3 linked regions of the Homo sapiens genome follow. The protein of the gene in region 3 interacts with the protein of the main gene of each other region in a pairwise test. Each region holds a gene or a part of one and is shown on either strand. Other genes may lie near its edges.

Region 1 (3,651 bases), on a different chromosome or scaffold from region 3:
TACTGTTTCAATTTAAGAAAACTTAAAATTGCTAGTTCTTTCAACTTCTTAATTTTTGATCTGTGTAAAAACCCTTCGATCTTTGTTCTGTCTAGTAACTCTTCTTGCCAAGCAAATACATAAAATTAGATGCTTCCCAATAAACATTTGTCACCAGACATGATAAATTATTCATAGTTGGAGATAATTTTATTAAACTCCAATGCTTTTATATCACTATCCATCTAACAACAACAGTCTTCTCCCCTGAAATATTTGTACATTGGTAGTGGTGGGTTAGGATGGGGATCAGGTGTTAGGGAGGTGACTCCAAACCAAGGCAGAAAAGGGATGTGATAAAATATAAATGTGGGGATAGAAAGGTTTGCTTCCTACTTGGAAACCCATGAGACTTCCTAAGGTGAAATGGTGGGATGTCTTTAACATCCTCATAAAAATATAGCACCTTGACTCTTCAAGCTGTACAGATGGTGCTCCTAAAGAGGAAGAAGTGTCAGACCTGACTAGTGCACTTATGTCACTAATAACTACAGTTGTAAAAAATCAACAAGACTTATTTGGTGAAATGATGGTATCGGAATGTGTAAAGCGAACAAAATGATCTAGACCAAGCAGCTTTTTAGAACAATCTGTCCAGTAGAACTTTCTGCAATGATGGAAATGTTCTGTAGCTATACTGTTCAGTATGGTAGCCAGCCACCAGCTATACATGTGGCTGTTGAGGACTTGAAATGTGGCAAGTGTGACTAAGGAACTGATTTTTAAATTTAACTAACTTAAATTTAAATGGCTACATGTGCCTTTTGGTTACCATATTAGATAGTGCACTTCTAGAATTTGCATTTCCCTGCTTCTTAATCACTCCTCTTCACAAGTAAGAGATAATTGCTATTCTGAAAGACCATGTGGCCTGTGAAAAAGGCAGACAAATACTTAACCTTGAGATCAAAAACATAAAAGAAGCAAAATAGGAAATAAGATACGTCCAGCTGAAAAGAACAGAATCTAAATGAAACTTAACATGAGTCAAATAATAAGATTGGACCTTCCATGGGTGACATCTCTTTTAAATTTGTTCTTGGGAATGTTCCATTTCTTCGCAACAGAAGATGCACAGTAAGCAGTCTTCTGGTACTGCCCCAGAATTTTCCTAGATATCTGTCATGTGTAAGCCTTGTTACTACTTATTTCATTGAAAAAGTCTATAATCTCCACCCCAACTCCATGAAACCTTTTCTTTTTTTTTTTTTTTAGAAGTTAATCTGGCATTTTCTACACTCAGGGAATTAATAACCACATAATTTGGCATCTACTTATTAGTTTCTTTTTTTAATAAATTAGAAACTTGAAAATGGGCATTATGATTTCAATCTCTTAAATGATTACAATATTACAAAAAAGTACTCATAATCTTTTTTTTTTGTCCCCTCAGATTCCTTTTTACCATGATATTCTTAAATTATTCACTTGCTTATTCATTACATAGGATGTTTCTGGTTTTTTCCCCCCAGCAGAAGATATTCTAGATTTTTCAAGTTTTCCTTTCTATATGAAAAGCCATTTTCATACAGAAAATATTTCATCAAGTTTAAACAATGAAACCAATTTAATTGCTTTGATACTTCTTTGTATGTTTTTATGTTCACAAATTAAATTTTTGCTAATAGTCACTTTTATTTAATGAAAATTAGTGATTTTATTCAGTATTTTATTAAAATACTAGGTAATTTGTGCTATAATTAAAAAATATATATTAGTATGGTTTTTGGAAAAAGTATATATCAATAGGAGGTAATAAGATGATAGGTTGGCATTTCAACTTTTAGAATAACATGACTTTGTAATAATTTATGTCTTCTAAATATGTATTTTTTAATAATTTAAATAATACTTTCTTCTCTCTAGATTTTTGCTTCAGTGTCTTGAGGATCTTGATGCCAATCTACGAAAATTAAACTCCCGTCTGTTTGTGATTCGTGGACAACCAGCAGATGTGTTTCCCAGGCTTTTCAAGGTAATTTGAAAAATATTTGCATAAAACAATCTTTTCTCAGATAATATTACATATTTGGTAAATAAAGTTTTTTGACTAATTGAAAATGTAGCGAATATAAGTATTTTCAAGTAAAAATTTTGTGGGTTTTTTTTCTTTATTTAATGAAAAAGCTATACATGGTAAAAATCAGACAGTGAGAAAATAGTTTACAATGAAAAGTTCAATCTTTCTTCTACCTTAAACTGCTCGTTGCCCTCCCAGAAGCAACAGCTACTACCAGTTTCTTATGTATCCAATTCCAGTTTCTTGTTTATCCAATTAGAAATATTCTTTGCATAAACAAGAATTTTTTGTGTGTGTATATATATATATTTTTGTGTGTGTGTGTGTATATATATATGTGTATACACACACACACATCCATGTGTTTGTGTCTGTGTTACTGTCCCCTTTGTTAAAAGTTAAAATGACACACTATACACACCATTCTCTGCCATGCTTTGTTCACATAACCATATCTTTTGGAAGTTGTTCCATATCATTTCCTCGGTCTTTCAGATGACTTCATAGTATTCCATTTTGTAGATGGCTATAATTTTTTAAACTAGCTTTCTACTGAACGTTTAATTATTTTCTCTGTAGGCCTTTTGCTAGTATAAATGCCAGTGAACTTACTTGTCCACATTTATGAATCTTTGCTCACATGGGCCAGTACATTTGTGGGATAATTCTTAGAAGACTTTCTGGGTCAAAGGATTGTAACAATGGACATTTTACCAATAATACAGAATTTGTAGTGCTTTTTTTTTTCTTTTTTTGAGATGGAGTCTTGCTCTTGTCGCCCAGGCTAGAGTGCAATGGCGCAATCTCAGCGCACTACAACCTCTGCCTCCTGGGTTCAGGTGATTCTTCTGCCTCAGCTTCCTGAGTAGCTGGGATTACTGGCGCACGCCACCATGCCTGGCTAATTTTGTACTTTTAGTAGAGACAGGGTTTCACCATGTTGGTCAGGCTGGTCTCGAACTCCTGACCTTAGGTGATCCACCGGCCTCGACCTCCCAAAGTGCTGGAATTAAAGGTGTGAGCCACTGCGCCCAGCACTGTAGTGCTTTTTAAAAAACTTAGTAGGATCTTAAAAATCTTTAAAAATGTTTAAGATACCTAATCTTATCTCTTCCCTTTTTTCCAAATGAAAAAATTAGGCCTAGAGAATAATTGAGTTGCCCAAGATCATACAACTAGCTCATGGAAATGCCCAGACCAGAAACTGAGTTTCCTCATTGCCCTTTTTGTATTCATCCCTTCCTATTTATTACTGTATTAGTCCATTTTCACATTGCTGCAAAGAAATATCTGAGACTGTATAATTTATAAAGAAAAGAGATTTAATTGGCTCACAGTTCTGCAGGCTGTACAGGAAGCATAGTGGCTTCTGGGAAGGCCTCAGGAAACTTACAATCATGGTGGAAGGGGAAGGGAAAGGGGAAGTAAGAACTTCACATGGCCAGAGCAGGAGGAAGAGAGAAGGAGCGGGGAGGTGCCACACTTTAAAAAAAACAAAAAACAAAAAAAAAAACAGATCTTGCAAGCACTCACTCACTATCAGAGCACCAAGGGGAAATCTGCCACCATGATCCAATCACCTCCCACCAGGC
Region 2 (3,651 bases), on a different chromosome or scaffold from region 3:
TTCCAGCTGCCACATGCAAGAAGTATATGGCCAAGCTGAGGACCACGGTGTCTGCTCAGTCTCGCTTCCTCAGTACCTATGATGGAGCAGAGACGCTCTGCCTGGAGGACATATACACAGAGAATGTCCTGGAGGTCTGGGCAGATGTGGGCATGGCTGGACCCCCGCAGAAGAGCCCAGCCACCCTGGGCCTGGAGGAGCTCTTCAGCACCCCTGGCCACCTCAATGACGATGCGGACACTGTGCTGGTGGTGGGTGAGGCGGGCAGTGGCAAGAGCACGCTCCTGCAGCGGCTGCACTTGCTGTGGGCTGCAGGGCAAGACTTCCAGGAATTTCTCTTTGTCTTCCCATTCAGCTGCCGGCAGCTGCAGTGCATGGCCAAACCACTCTCTGTGCGGACTCTACTCTTTGAGCACTGCTGTTGGCCTGATGTTGGTCAAGAAGACATCTTCCAGTTACTCCTTGACCACCCTGACCGTGTCCTGTTAACCTTTGATGGCTTTGACGAGTTCAAGTTCAGGTTCACGGATCGTGAACGCCACTGCTCCCCGACCGACCCCACCTCTGTCCAGACCCTGCTCTTCAACCTTCTGCAGGGCAACCTGCTGAAGAATGCCCGCAAGGTGGTGACCAGCCGTCCGGCCGCTGTGTCGGCGTTCCTCAGGAAGTACATCCGCACCGAGTTCAACCTCAAGGGCTTCTCTGAACAGGGCATCGAGCTGTACCTGAGGAAGCGCCATCATGAGCCCGGGGTGGCGGACCGCCTCATCCGCCTGCTCCAAGAGACCTCAGCCCTGCACGGTTTGTGCCACCTGCCTGTCTTCTCATGGATGGTGTCCAAATGCCACCAGGAACTGTTGCTGCAGGAGGGGGGGTCCCCAAAGACCACTACAGATATGTACCTGCTGATTCTGCAGCATTTTCTGCTGCATGCCACCCCCCCAGACTCAGCTTCCCAAGGTCTGGGACCCAGTCTTCTTCGGGGCCGCCTCCCCACCCTCCTGCACCTGGGCAGACTGGCTCTGTGGGGCCTGGGCATGTGCTGCTACGTGTTCTCAGCCCAGCAGCTCCAGGCAGCACAGGTCAGCCCTGATGACATTTCTCTTGGCTTCCTGGTGCGTGCCAAAGGTGTCGTGCCAGGGAGTACGGCGCCCCTGGAATTCCTTCACATCACTTTCCAGTGCTTCTTTGCCGCGTTCTACCTGGCACTCAGTGCTGATGTGCCACCAGCTTTGCTCAGACACCTCTTCAATTGTGGCAGGCCAGGCAACTCACCAATGGCCAGGCTCCTGCCCACGATGTGCATCCAGGCCTCGGAGGGAAAGGACAGCAGCGTGGCAGCTTTGCTGCAGAAGGCCGAGCCGCACAACCTTCAGATCACAGCAGCCTTCCTGGCAGGGCTGTTGTCCCGGGAGCACTGGGGCCTGCTGGCTGAGTGCCAGACATCTGAGAAGGCCCTGCTCCGGCGCCAGGCCTGTGCCCGCTGGTGTCTGGCCCGCAGCCTCCGCAAGCACTTCCACTCCATCCCGCCAGCTGCACCGGGTGAGGCCAAGAGCGTGCATGCCATGCCCGGGTTCATCTGGCTCATCCGGAGCCTGTACGAGATGCAGGAGGAGCGGCTGGCTCGGAAGGCTGCACGTGGCCTGAATGTTGGGCACCTCAAGTTGACATTTTGCAGTGTGGGCCCCACTGAGTGTGCTGCCCTGGCCTTTGTGCTGCAGCACCTCCGGCGGCCCGTGGCCCTGCAGCTGGACTACAACTCTGTGGGTGACATTGGCGTGGAGCAGCTGCTGCCTTGCCTTGGTGTCTGCAAGGCTCTGTAGTGAGTGTTACTGGGCATTGCTGTTCAGGTATGGGGGAGCACCATCAAGGCTAAGTGTGGGAGCACCGAGCTGGGCTCTAGAAGTCTGGGCCCAGCTTCGCCTCTGCCACCCTGCTTTGCAACACTGCCCAGATCCCTTCCCTTCTGGGCCTTAATTTCAATATGTGATGATGACAGCCACACTTTATTGACTGGCCTATGTGCTGGGTCTGGTGCTATGCTTTCCGGAATGACCTCATCTAATCTCTACAACCACCCTGGCGGGTAGGCAGGAATGTTATTATCTCCATTATCCTTGACTTGAGGCTCAGAGAAGTGAAGTAACTTGTCCAGGAAATGGCAGAGCTGGGGTTCACAAATTGCATCATTCTGATTACAGGTTTTCTGCCTCCCACCAGTCTATGGATACACTTCAGAGGCTCCCTGAAAACCTTGAGGTCACTTGCAGAAAGTTTTGTGTAGTATGTGTCCGTATCAGGAACAACACCAAATCAGAGGTGACTTGTGCCCCATCAGAGACTTTAACACCCCAACCAGATGGGAATTTCAGGACCCAAGAAATAGAAAGTGGCTGCAGGGTTACAACTACTGTTGGATTCCTGAGGTAGCACAGTGTCCAAACAGGATTTCAGCACTACCCGTATTGCTTAGAGCCCCAGCCAAAGATGTGAGGTTTTGCCCTTTGGAGAATCTGTGCCCCTGAACTCGGGGGCCTCTTTCCACATCTTGGGGGCAGGCAAGGGCAGAGGGTGTGCCTAGGCCTGCGGATCAGCATGCGACAGATTCCCCAACATCCTTCCAGCTTGAAAGGGGATTGCCCTGCTTCTATTTAGAACCTATAGGAAAGCAGAAGTTCTAGATTGAAGTTAAAATTGATTCCCAGCCTCCAGGGGCTTTGGGCTACACCTGGATGACCTTAATTGACCCTAAGCATGGGACAAACCACTTCCTGAGAGTATTAGGATGGTATACATCTTCTCTGGGGGCAAAGCAACAAGATTTATTTTTCATCATGGACCAAACACATGGATACCCACTAGAAACTGTGTAGTGAATTTTGTTAACCCTGACATAGGGACCATGGTCTTTAGGTTAAAGCATAATAACAACATAATACATAACATATATAGCGAATATATATATGTATTATATGCAATGAATGTAAATATGATTATACCCATCATGGTCTTGGAGGAAACAGATGACACACTTAAAATGGGTGTTTTGAGGAGAGTTTGAAAAACAGATTGTTTACAAGCCATGGGCAGGAGTTAGGAAGAGTGAGAGGGTTGGTGCAGGGGCCTGGGGTTAGTAACAGCTGGGGGAGGGTAGACTTGAAGGGGGAAGGGGAGGGAGACTAATTAGCTGGGGGGAAGGTATGGAGACGGCTGCCTGAGCTTCTGCAAAGTGGAAGAATACCGCTTGGCCCTAACTCCTCACCCCAACTCTTGCTCCTGGCCAGCGCCTTCCACCAGCTGGACCCATCAGGGAGGCCGAGTGGGCTGTCTGCTGGAGTAGTCCCCAGGCATCAGCCTCCCAGGAGCCAGGGACGGGTAGAGAAGGGGGAGAGTGGATCTGGCCAGGCAAATGGAAAACAGCCAGCACCAAACTCTATTTCCCTAGGAGGGAGGATCATGATACTTTGAGTGGGAATTTGGAAACCTGTCTGTTGGAGCAATTTCCCTGATAGAAATAAGAATGTGCATTTTCCTGGGTAGTAGACTCAGTTTTTACCCCAAGAGGCCAGGCATCACTGGCCTGTGTGATCCTCATAGGCCAGTCCATCTCTGGAATTCTTGAATGGATCATCCATCCTTGATTAGGGATGT
Region 3 (3,651 bases):
ATGTGTATTAGCTATTATTCATATTATTACTTTTATTGTTGTTATTTTGTATTTGTATTTCTTTAGTGGAATATAAGCTCCTTGTCTGACTTGTTTATCATGATATGCCCAAAGACTAGCACTGTGCTTGGCACATAATAGATATTCAACACATTTTTTGAGGAAGGAAGAAGGGGATTTTAAATAATAGAATTCCTAAATCCTTTTCTGAAACCGCCTTTGACAGCTATAATGTCTTTCATTTACAACAGCTTCTGGAGCTATTTGACAGCGAAGACCCTCGGGAACGGGACTACTTAAAAACAGTCTTACACAGAATTTATGGCAAGTTTCTTGGTCTTAGAGCATTTATCCGAAAACAGATTAACAATATTTTTCTAAGGTAAGTGGAGTGTGATGGGGGAAGAAGGAGAAGCAAAGTTGGTGTTTTTATGAGTATTAAGTAAATCTCAAATATCTGAAAACGGTGTACTGACTTCTCTTTCTCCCTTTCTGCCTGCCTTCCTTCATTCTACTGACTCTCCTGCCTCTTCCTCTACCCCCTCCCCCTCCTCTCCTCCCCCATCTTCTCCTCTCCTCCCCCATCTTCTCCTCTCCTCCCCCATCTTCTCCTCCCACCCTCCTCTTCCTCCTCTTTTCCTCTTCCTCTCCCTCCTCCCCCCACTGCTTCTTCTCTATCCCTCCTCTCCCCCTACTTTCCCCCTCCTCTTCCCTCTCCCCTGCTTTTCTCCTCCCCCTTCTCCTCCTCCCCCATCTCCTCCTCCTCTCCTCTTTTCCTCTCCTCTCTCCTCCTCCTCCTCTATCCCCTGTCCTCCTCCTTTCTCCCTCCCTCTCCTCCTCTCCTCCCCGCTCTCCTCCTCTCCTGCCCCCTCCCCCTTCTCCTCTTTTCCTCCCTCTCCTCCTCTCTTCCCCCACCTCTCCCTCCCCCATCTTCCCCCTCCCCTCTCTTCCCCCCTTCTCCTCTCCTCCCCCGTCTCTTCCCTCCTTTTCTCCCCCTCCCCCTTCTCCTCCTCTTCTCCTCCCTGTCCTCCTCTCTTCCCCCACCTCTCCCTCCCCCATCTTCCCGCTCCCCTCCTCTCTTCCCCCCTTCTCCTCTCCTCCCCGACTCCTCTCTTCCCTCCTTTTCTCCCCCTCCCCCTCCTCCTCCTCTCCTCCTCCCTCTCCTCCTCTCTTCCCCCCATCTCTCCCCCGTCTCCTCCTCTCTTCCCCCCTCCTCCTCCCTTTTCCCTCTGCTCCTCCTCCCTTCCACCCTCTCCTCCCCCCTCTTCTCCCCTCTCTCCTCCGCTCTTCCCTCCTCTCCTCCCCCTCTCTCCCCATCTTCTCCTCCCTCTCCTCTCTTCCCCCATCTCTCCCCCATCTCCTCTCTTCCCCTCTCTCCTCCTCTCTTCCCTCCTCTCCTCCTCTCTTCCCTCCTCTCCTCCTCTCTTCCCTCCTCTCCTCCTCCTCTCTTCCCTCCTCTCCTCCTCCTCTCTTCCCCCCTCCTCTCCTCCTCCTCTCTTCCCCCCTCCTCCTCCTCCTTCTCTCTTCCCCCTTGTCCTCCCTCTCCTCCTCTCTTCCCCGCTCTCCTCCTCCTCCTCCTCTTCTCCTCCTCCTCCCCCTTCTCCTCCTCCTCCTCCTCTTTTTATCCCTTCCTTCTCCTCCTCCTCTCCTCCTTTCTCCTCCCTTTTCTCCTCTTCTCTCAGGTTTGTTTATGAAACAGAACACTTCAATGGTGTAGCTGAACTGCTGGAAATATTAGGAAGGTGAGCACGGTTTTTCTAATTGCTAATCTCAGATGAATATTATTTTAAAAATTAGGTTCAGGTGGCACCAAGAGATGCTCACCTAGTTCTCTTGCTGTATGTACATTGGGTCTCTCTCATTTGTGCCTATTAGCATATTTTCCAGCTGACTCTACAAGACACAATTTCCTGTTCCCCTTGTTCCACAAGTATGCATTGCCATTTCCACTGGAATGACTGAAAGAGCTGACAGTTCATTCATTACTAGAAAGATGGTACATCTAATTGTGGTCAGGCTAGTTACTCCAAAACATCTTATTCTCATTAGTTTTTAGGCTATCTGGTCCTTTGCCTTATCTGTTGAAAGCAAGTTTATAATAAATTGGAAAGATTGCCATTTTCAAAGGAGTTGTGTATCCAGGTATAGTCCTTGAACAGCTGCAGCCTGGAGTAGTGGAATGAATTGGAAAGAGCTGTGGTGTAAGTTTCTACACACAAGGGAGGATAATGTAGCTGGACAATATGATTACTTAATCTTTTCTCCTAATATGAAGAGAAAAAGAAGGTGGAGTCACATGGCTTTCTCTCAGTGATTTCCCTAGGCTGGGCAGAGGTTTCAGGAATGAGAAGGAATGATGTCTGGAAATGGAAAAGGTCATATTTAAGGCGGAAGCAAGCAAGGCGGGCCATTATTTGGAGAAGGAAAAGGGAGGGAAAATAAAGGGTTTTGATAAAGAGCTTTTGGAAACCATCTGACTAATTTTAGGAGCACAGGAGCCTTTGTTGGGTGACCAGAAGCAAATTTTCTTCTCTTAAATTTCCTTCCAACTTTTTGTATTCCTTGAAGTCATTAAGAAATCCTGGCTGGGTGTGGTGGCTCACGCCTATTATCCCAGCACTTTGGGAGGCCAAGGTGGGCAGATCATTTGCAGTTAAGAGTTCTAGACCAGTCTGGACAATATGGTGAAACTCCTTCTCTACTAAAAATACAAAAAAATTAGCCAGGCATGGTGGTGGGTGCCTGTAATCCCAGCTACTTGGGAGGCCTGAGGCATAGGAATAGCTTGAATCCCGGAGGCGAAGGTTGCAGTGAGCTGAGATTGGGCCACTGCACTCCAGCCTGGGCAATAGAGCAAGATGACTCTGTCTCAAAAAAAAAAAAAAAAAAAAAAAAAAGGAAATTCTGAATGCCACTGGGGTGGGTATTATGTTGTTTTGTACAAACAAACTGATTAAGTTTAATTAATATCACAAGAACAGTTTGTCTCAGTTCAACTTGTGGTAACATTGCTAATTTGTGTCTCTTTTTTCTCCCTAGTATTATCAATGGCTTTGCTTTACCTCTTAAGGCAGAACACAAACAGTTTCTGGTGAAAGTATTGATCCCTTTACACACTGTCAGGAGCTTATCACTCTTCCATGCACAGGTAGGAGGATTTTGTACAACTACTTTTAGAAGCAAAATAAAAAGTTTGCAAACTCGTTTTTTTGATATTGATATAACCTTCATTTTGTTTTTTTGGTTTTTGTTTTTTGAGACGGAGTCTTGCTCTGCCGCCCAGGCTGGAGTGCAGTGGGACAGTCTTGGCTCACTGCAGCCTCCACCTCCCGGGTTCAAGCAATTCTTCTGCCTCAGCCTCCCGAGTAGCTGTGACTACAAGCGCACGCCACCATGCCCAGCTAATTTTTGTATTTTTAGTAGAGACGGGGTTTTACCATGTTGGCCAAGATGGTCTGGGTCTTCTGACCTCATGATCCGCCCACCTTGGCCTCCCAAAGTGCTGGGATTACAGAGGTGTGAGCCACGGCGCCGGGCCTATCGCCTTCATTCCCAAAGGAAAGAGACTTACTTAAGTTTAAAATACTCCCCGAGGGAAATAAAAATGTATGCATTTTTTTTCTATGCACAGTAGAATCATGGAAATATTTT

Evidence for each region.
Region 1: the proteins of PPP2R5E (region 3) and CRY1 interact in a two-hybrid assay, tested with the Homo sapiens proteins (one study listed by BioGRID).
Region 2: the proteins of PPP2R5E (region 3) and NOD2 interact in a two-hybrid assay, tested with the Homo sapiens proteins (one study listed by BioGRID and IntAct).

What each region holds. Positions count from the first base shown.
Region 1 is NC_000012.12:107,020,447-107,024,097, reverse strand, and holds part of CRY1 (cryptochrome-1), read left to right. Parts: intron 1-1,905; coding exon 1,906-2,014; intron 2,015-3,651.
Region 2 is NC_000016.10:50,710,552-50,714,202, forward strand, and holds part of NOD2 (nucleotide-binding oligomerization domain-containing protein 2), read left to right. Parts: intron 1-6; coding exon 7-1,822; coding exon of another isoform or gene 1,823-1,823; exon of another isoform or gene 1,824-2,086; intron 2,087-2,201; coding exon of another isoform or gene 2,202-2,202; exon of another isoform or gene 2,203-3,038; intron 3,039-3,651. UniProt on the Homo sapiens protein: Pattern recognition receptor (PRR) that detects bacterial peptidoglycan fragments and other danger signals and plays an important role in gastrointestinal immunity.
Region 3 is NC_000014.9:63,393,317-63,396,967, reverse strand, and holds part of PPP2R5E (serine/threonine-protein phosphatase 2A 56 kDa regulatory subunit epsilon isoform), read left to right. Parts: intron 1-251; coding exon 252-382; intron 383-1,682; coding exon 1,683-1,742; intron 1,743-3,039; coding exon 3,040-3,148; intron 3,149-3,651. UniProt on the Homo sapiens protein: The B regulatory subunit might modulate substrate selectivity and catalytic activity, and might also direct the localization of the catalytic enzyme to a particular subcellular compartment.